Regions from separate parts of the Homo sapiens genome. Here region 1 is linked to region 2. The links come from fine-mapping of genetic effects on gene expression. Tissue or cell type: whole blood. Region 2 holds a variant in brackets; the other region holds the start of a gene. All regions are shown on one strand. Distances are from middle to middle.

Evidence for each region. PIP is the estimated chance that this variant, and not a neighbour inherited with it, causes the effect. A credible set is the group of variants that fine-mapping cannot tell apart.
Region 1: CD40LG starts here. The variant in region 2 is the best candidate, but not a certain one, in a credible set for the expression of CD40LG in whole blood (TOPMed, PIP 0.50).

The regions. Positions count from the first base shown.
Region 1 is chrX:136,645,862-136,650,260 of GRCh38, reverse strand. It overlaps CD40LG (CD40 ligand), which reads right to left and starts at 2,103. Exons shown (of 5, transcript NM_000074.3): 1 at 1,857-2,103. The coding sequence starts at 2,012.
Region 2 is chrX:136,752,312-136,756,710 of GRCh38, reverse strand. The region is part of intron 2 of ARHGEF6 (Rac/Cdc42 guanine nucleotide exchange factor 6); the gene reads left to right. Among named protein-coding and RNA genes, the nearest start is that of ARHGEF6, 26 kb to the left of the region's middle. The variant G/A (reference allele first, on the strand shown) is at 2,543.

The DNA.
Region 1 (4,399 bases), 110 kb after region 2:
TTGGAATAACAAGGATATGATAAATGTCATTCGGAAGGAGAATACAGCTAATGATATCTGCCTCTACATTCATTTCCACGGCATCAACAAGAGGAGGACTTTCAGGCATAAATGGAGAATAATAAGTTATTATATTGGCTGATTGCTATTTTGTATTTGCAGTTTAAAAATCTATAAAAGACAGCAATTAAGATGTCATGTTATCAGAAACTCCAGGTAGAAATCAGAGCTATTCTACTAAATGTTCACTACAAAATGCATATTTTTTCAACATACTATAGCAGCAATATTCTGTAATTGTCACATTTCTCATTGCTTCAGTAATGATTGGTCATTATAAACATCAGCCTAGAAAATAGTTTTCTGCAGAGCTAATTTGCCCACTTCATTTTAGTGTTTGTGATGCAGTGCTTTATAAAAAGAAGTTAATTTGCAATGTGTCAGTTAACGAGTTCTAATTACATCTCTCTCCCTTTTAACTTTAGTATTTGTAGAAAACATTTGCATTTTTAAAGAAATCATCTTTTATCCTCAAAGTAACAAGATATTTTATTTTCCAATGTCTTAGAATAATTAAATGTACAGAATTCACTTGCATTATCAACTAATTTTATACCATTTTCTTGCTTTAAGAGTAGATTTTTTAGATTCAAAACAAGATTCAGTTAGCTGGCAGCTTCTGCTGTAATTAAGAGCACATGTAAATAGTACGGTAAATATCAGTCCACTGAGGTCACTATTGCCCCTTTAGAAGCTAGGCCTATGTCCATACATTTGATTGACAGAGCACATCAGGCCAAACACAAATAACCAACCAGACCAGAAGCCCCCTCTTTTGTCAGCAGTGAAACCTAATATTTGGATAACCCAGTGGATGACTTCAGCCCTCACTACCTCACCTTATCCTGTTAGAAAAATCTCATGACATTAATTCTAGGTCCAGATCCTAAGAGAGGACACTCAAGTATCCCTGATAAAGTGCAATCATCCAGATGCTTTCTAGCCACAGTTCCTGCATCCAGAATTTTAGGAACAGCCAGAAAACTAATCAACTTTCTCCTTTACATCTATGATTGGTATTTTGTCAACACCAGCCAATTATACTCCTCAGTGGAAGTGAAAAAATACATGAAAACAAAATAAGTCCTGATGGTTTTCTTTTCCTAAGAATGCAAAACAGCCTACTAAGTTACTCTGCTCTTTTGTTCCTGCAAGTCTAACCATTTAAAAATGTAAAACATCTCAGAGGGAGACTGAGCATCCTGCAACTACAATCAGTGCTTGTGAAGAATTACACAGAAAATGCTACTTTTACTAAAAGACTGCAAATTCTGGGACTTATCCATGTCTATGTTAATCTGAAGCATTATGAAATTTTAGATCAAATTGACGCTCTTCTTGCCTAGCTGGAAATTTAAAAGAAAAAAGCTGTCTCCATAAAAAAATAGCTTACTTTTAAAGCAGAACTTTAGCAAATAATTATAGCTAGTGCGTACATAGTGCTTACTATGTATCAGACCCCCTCCTAAGCTTTTTACAAGGCTAAACTCACTTAATCTATGAAATGGACACCAATACCATCCCCATTTCTCAGATGTGGAAACTGAGGCACTTGCCCCAGGATAACAGAGATGGTATGGGCAGAGCCAAGATTTGAACCCAGGCAGTCTGACTCCAGATCCCAAGATCCTAACCAGAGACAAGAATATGAGACTTCATTGACTAGGCAACAAACATTATGCCACAAGACCATTCTTCTATTTGGTTTCTACCATCATCCATCATTTGGGTAGAACCAACCTATGAATTAGTAAGGACCCCAAATTTAGTTAATAAAGGCTTGTGGTTCATCTTACCTTGTCCAACCTTCTATGAAGATACACAGCAAAAAGTGCTGACCCAATCATCTGGGTGATAAGAAAAACAGTAAGTAAATACATAAAAATTTTCATGCTGATGGGCAGTCCAGTGGCCGCAGATCGGGGAGAAGTTTGGTTGTATGTTTCGATCATGCTGTGTTAAAGTTGAAATGGTATCTTCTGGCAGAGAAGGTGGCAGAGGCAGCATGAGAAGACTGTCAAAGTGGCCACCTTACTCAGGATTAGTTAAGAGCGCACAATCGTTGCAGCCCACACTTCCTGGAAAATGTGCTTCGTAGTCTTCTCTCCCAGCAAAAACGTTACGTAAAGGTTTTTTGTTTTTTTTTTTTTTTTTAATTATACCCATATCATTCACTTCCAGGCTTTCCTTTTTGTAAGTAAAGAAGAAACAAGTTTCTTCTTCCATATATTCATTCTTGCCTTGAAATGTCATAGACTTCTTAACAGACAATGGCAGTATTTTCCTATCACTGTCTAACTTTTTGGGTTCACCAGTTTCAAGGAAAGTGACAAATTCATCCACCAGCAATAGACTTATTTCAATTTCAATCTTACTAATACGAAGCGGGAACCTGGTATATGGAGAAAGAAACACATGTCAACAAAAGTTTGGATTGATTTTATGACTGGTGTCCCATCAACTAATTGCTTCTCAGAACTTTACTTCTTTAATCACTAAACTCAATGAAAGCCTGGCAGGTTTTCAGGTCAAGTCTACATGGCATAAAGCAAAAAAAGCATGCTGATGGTTATTAAATAAAATTTAGCTGGAAAGATAATGCAAGAAAAATAAATTTTGCAAAGGCAAAGATAAGTAGGGTCTTGAGGGAAATCAGGCCAAGACTCTGGAATTGAAGTTAAAGTAAAAATCGTGACTTGACGTAGCTAAGCTGCCTGTGTACACTGTTCCAATCCATTAGATAATTGTTGATGCTGATGTAACAGTTCAGAATAGGGAAAATAGGCTGCAGTTAAGAGATCTGAATTCTAGTCTTTGCTCTACCAATAAATTGCTATGAGCCTTGGGCAAATCACTTCATCTCTTTAGACCTCAGTTTCCTCATACCCAAAGGAGGCACTTGCACCTGTCTTGCTTATCCTGTAGGTTGCTGTGAAGATCTAATAAAGATGTGCATGGAAGAAATTTGAAACACGTTAAGCAATAAACAATTCTCATCCTGAATTTTTTGGAATTTATTTAGCCTAAGACATGAGTTTAACAAATAATTGCCAACTCCTTACATGTTGGTAAAAACCAAATGAACAATAACAATATTAAAAACACCTTAAGTTTTGACAATGAATTGAATCACTGAAGTGTGTAGGATTACACATTTCTGAAGGGCTTTTGCATCATCTTATCAGATTTCCTTCAAACTAAAAGCAGCTGTGGAAATCCCTACCTCACATCCAAACCTGGTCTAGAAACCATGATAAAATTGCTTTGATGATTCCTATAAAATTGTTTTGAGAGACAAATAGGAAACGTAAAAACTGCTCTGATAGGCATGCTATCTATATAGTTAGCACCTGCTTTCTTCCCCTCCCACGCCCCAGCATCCTGTCCTGGGCCCAGATCTATGTAGCTTTTCACTACATCTGCCAAGTAGGTGGCTTCGATGCACGTGATGAACTTTGATCAGTCAAGTCAGAGGCTTTGGTTCTTAGACAAGTAACCTTAGTTCCACTGAAGGAAAATTATCATGAGAGCCAAAATGGGCTCAAGGACTTCTGCACTGTCAGTTTTATACAACTTGAGAGTGCCAGAGCTGCAGGGGCCCTGCAATCAGCTCAGCCAAGACCCGAGGGAGGGGAGGCTGAAGGTCACAGATTTGTTCACGTGACCAACTTGAAAAAACAGTTGTTGTCCAACCTCCTTGCCTCAACTTCTTGATCCCCAGCCTCCTACAGTCTGACTTCTGCCCACAATATTCCCCTGAAATTGATCCCACCATTATTAGCTCAATAATAGTTTTGGCTGAATACTTCTTAGAGTTTATTTTTAGCGACCTCTCTATTACTCTGTTGACCTATTATCCTGTTGTCATCTTCCTGAATGCTCTCCCCACTTGAATTCTATATCACCCTATTCTTAAGGGCTTCTGCCTCTCAGAATCCTTCTTCATGTTATCTTCTTTCCTCTTTGTATCCCTTAAAACTTTGGTATTCCTTCTCTCTATTTCCTTTCCTTCTCCCTTCTCCTCTCCTCCCCTCTCTTCTTGTTCTCCATGGTTTCATTGGGTGATTCATGGGTTTCATGAACTTTCATGGGTTTCAATCTCACCTTCATTGTGATAAATCTCAAATCTATAACTGAAGTCCTGAACTTCAGAGTTGTAAGCACAGCTACCTCTGAAAATCTCTACTTGGATATCCCAAAGCCATCTTACATTTGGTATGCTCTAAAATTAATTTATCTCACCACTCTAATTCCAATCCAGACCTGTTCTCCCTTAAGATTCTCCGTATCTCTGTGAATGGTCCCACCACCCACTTAATTGCCCAAGTCAGAGATCTGG
Region 2 (4,399 bases):
ATAATAACTTTGGCACAGCATCCTTTCCTCCAAGTTTAGCAGGTGTTAGGAGGATTTTGGGCATGTGAATTGTAGTCTTTCCAATTACACGTTACCCCTTCTTGCTGCTGGTGAGTTGCTTTGCCGTGTCCCATTGTGCTCTGGCTGTGAGTTGGAGCTAGTTTTAGAGCATAGGCATGAACAGGGGAGGGTGGCTTGTAGTGTTTGCCATTTATTCAGTTTTACAACAAAAACGGTTGAAAATATAACCAATTCCAGAAAAAGCAGTAAAATCCCACAGTTCTTTGCAACTTCTCTTCTCTATGATAATGAGGTCATGGTGCTTTGTGATGGCATTTAGAGGAACCTCTATTACCTGGGACAGGCAAGCAGTTGCAGATGTTGCCCACACTCAGCACACAACTTAAAAAATTAACAACCGTAGAGTCTGAAGCACCTTTGGTCACCTCGTGGTCACAGAGCTTAATTTTGCTGATGAGCACAGGTACATCTAATTTTAGATGTTACATGTTTCCTGGAAAATTGCGTGGAGATTGTTTTTTTTCTTTCCTAAGTGATATCTCTTTCTGAGTTTATTATACTTTCTGCAATACTTTTTCTTCAAGTATGATTAATCATCTATTGATGAGAACAGCTAAACTCTCATTAATTAACCAAATATCTATTGAGTGCCTACTGCGTGACAGGCACTCTTCTAGACACTGAGGATCCAGAAGTGAAAAAAAAATTGACATCATGGGGCTTACGTTCTAGGCATAATTTACCTTTATAAGTCTCTCTGACAGAGCATCCTGTCAATCAACCAATGAATGGTTATTTATCAAGTATTTCGTGTATGTTGAATATTGGGGCCAGGTCTGTGGGGGAATGCGGACTTCAAAGAGCCTACCTTTTAATAGGAAATTCAGGACTAATCTCAGTACCTGCATAATGAATAAAGAATATTGGGCTGATAGACCACTGACAGCTTAAATTTACAACATCTCTACAGACTATAAAGCTGTAGCTGTTTGGAAAAAAGAAACATGAAGGTAGGTCAGTGAGGACATTATGGATAGCAACAGGTGATACTTGGAAGGGCTGCTGCTGAAGGCGACTAGCAGTGGCTCTTTTGTTTCATGGCCCTCGTTTCTCCCTAGTCTTTGTGTGGGGCTATTTACCACCAGTCTCTGCTGTAAATTCTGGTAGGCTCTGGGGCTCCTACCCTAAATCTTAGTAGCTGCTAGGAAAGCAGGGACCAAGGGAGCCTTCTCTCCATAGGTGAGGCTCCTCTCTAACTGCCTGGATTGTTAAACAGGCACGGAGGAGCTGCTGACTACTGAAATTTCTGAGGGTATTCTCACGGACTTCATATATTTACCTTGATTCTCTCATCACTAAGAGTTCTAAAATAAATAGTACCCTGAATGTCTAGGGCATTTGTTCATCTTTTATATGAAGGGACAAGGAAAAAGCATAAAGGATGTTGGACATTGATTTGGGAACACATGTCTGGCCACTCTTCAATGTAAAAACAAATTATTTTCCAAAAGTTCATTTTTAAGTGATTATTAGGGACACAGAAAACATTTTCCCATAGAAACAAGGCTCAACACGGTGATTATGTTTTCTGGCTGGCCCACAACAGCCTGTTGAATACTTAATGTGGCTGAACTATAGAACTCACAGAGGCTAAGTGGCAGGTGTGATGCTGTTTCTGGGAAAATGTGTTCCGCATTCCAATTTGGAACACTAGGGAGTCAGTCCCTGTTTCTAAAGGGGTGGGAGTGGGGGCATTGGGGAAGACACCCTCATGTCTGGCACACAGATGCTCCAGCAGCTGAGAGATCACCCATCCACCCCACACCGCAAAACTGGCAACCAGTGTGCTTTTGCAAAGGCTCTGGTGACAGGAGCACAGGAGGAGGGGTGGGAGCCCGCCAAGCCACAATGGCTGGCTGACTGTGAGGCAGCTGAGTCTAGGCCTCCTGCTTCCTGTCCTTGGCTTGGCAAGGGCTATTGACAAGAGATATTTCATTTTTCCCTTTCCTTCATGCCTACTCTCTTTTTGGTGAGATTATTCAAAACCAGTTGTTCCTTCTTCTTTTTTCTTTTTCTTTTCTTTTCTTTCGTTGTTTTTTTTTTTTTTGAGGCGGGGTTTCGCTGTTGCCCAGGCTGGAGTGCAGTGGTGCAATCTCAGCTCGCTGCAACCTCCGCCTCCCAGATTCAAGCCATTCTTCTACCTCAGCCTCCTGAGTAGCTGGGATTACAGGTGCCCACCACTGCACCTGGCTAATTTTTGTATTTTTAGAAGAGATGGGTTTCACTATGCTGGCCAGTCTGGTCTCGAACTCCTGGACTCAAGTGATCCACCTACCTCGGCCTCCCAAGGTGCTGGGATTACAGGTGTGAGCCATTGTGCCCAGCCATCAGTTGTTCTCTTTTGCTCTCCCTTTATTTAATCCTGTGACTGGCCCCACTAAGATGCCTATATTGTTCTTCATTCATTCCCCTCTTACCTGAACACTTAATACTCAACTAAAGTCTCTGTTATAGAGAAAGG[G/A]GTTCTCCCCTATAGGAGTGCTAACAAGGAAGAATGGGAGTCCTATGGTGATGCTGAGGTAGCCGTCAGGGAATGAGATTTGTGACTTAATGAAGAGTGAGGGAGAAAGCTCAGATCTTGGCTTCTGTCATAGGAGCTCCATGGAGCTGAACTTCCTGGCTCTAGATTCTATGAGGTTCGAGTAATCTAGGAGTCCATATTAGTTATGTAAAGTGACTTTATAGAAATCCACAGAGCCAAAAAGAAAACATAGAGAGTTAAAGCTGTCCATGATCACAGTCCAAATGCCACGATGCAGTGGCAGCAAGATAAAGCCAGAATTTATAAATAGGTCATTTAAAAATGACATTTTGAAAAATCAGCTTGTAAACAGGTTGTAAGCATGTTAGGCTGCAATACCCTAGACTCTCTTTGCTCTGATTCTGTAGTACTCAACACATTTCTCATTATAATTTAGCTCACCAGAGAGATTTCTCTATTGGGAGAGAGTGCCCTGGCCAGAAAATGGGAGTATTTAATCTTCTTAGTGCTTCATTTATTTTTAGTAAAAATTAAGAAATTGGCCTTTTGGTTTATGCATTGGCCTTTTATGAGCTTGGCTAGTGTGAGTCCATTCTCAAGAGCCTTGAGAACTGAAGACCTGATTCTGGGCCTTGGGGACCCAGCCAAGATGCTGCCTTTAAAAGCTCCTATTTAGATGATGGACCACAAGACCTCTCACTGAGCTCCTTTGCTCAAAGACACTTTCCAGATGGGAAATGGAGCCTCATAAAGGTAGTGTTGCTTTCCTAAGGTCCTCACAACTGCTCAATAGTGACAAAGCTGAGATTGGAGTCAAAGTCTTCTGACTCTCACATCAGTGCTCTTTCCAATACACTGTATGTTGTTTCAGCTACAGGCACAAATTAGATCTTGGAGAGAAAGGGAGGAAATAAAAGTTGAGAGCAAGATTTGCTCCCTTAAGTTTGGTCCATATCAAATAGGAACAGCTATTATTTAAAACCAGGCAGAGTAGAAATGCCATCCACTATATTCTAGTAAGTGGAATACCAGTGGGTAATGAATCCAATTTCTGAGCTAAGAGCATTATTTGTTGCTGACTTTGTGACTGCTTTTAGTAGGAGCTATGTGCACACATCCCAGATCACGTTCACAGGGCCAGGAGCGGTACCACCCAGTGAAATATGACTAAGCAGCTCAGATTTGCTTGCTCTGTTGCACTATGTAATGACATTTCCACCAAAGTTCAGGGGTTAACAGAGGCAGTGTGCTCAGCTGTGAGAATTAAAGAATGTGATTCAAGATGAGCTAAGTTAATTTAAGATTTTGTTCAATAAGAGCAATAAGAACAAGGAAGAGCTGGAATGTTCCTAAATATTTGGAATCTTTTTTAAAAAACAGGCTTGAAATATAAGCTATATGTCCTTGTGGTCCCAATGTATCACTTGCTTTTCAGTTGATTAGACTTTTAACTCTTGAGTAATGGAACCTATTATAATCACCCCCAACCTTAAATTACCTTTAAATAGCAGTTGATTGGGTGTTACTGAAACCACATGACATTAAAGATGACCAGTTCTGAACCAGGGTAGGGTATGCCTTCTTTTCTTAACTAAGATGTGGCTAGACTGCTGTGACTGGTTAACTCAGGTGGTTAGAGCATGATGTCAAGAAAATCAGGAGGCTAGGTGTCATTGCACGTGGCACAGATGTTTTAGCTTGGTTCTGTAATCACGAGCTGGACCCCTACCAGACCAGGACCTCACAAATATGGATCGTGGCTCACGAGGCAGACCTGGTTCAACAAATAGGAGGAGCTTAGTGTAGCTTTTCCCCTCTTTTGGCAAATGTGGCCAA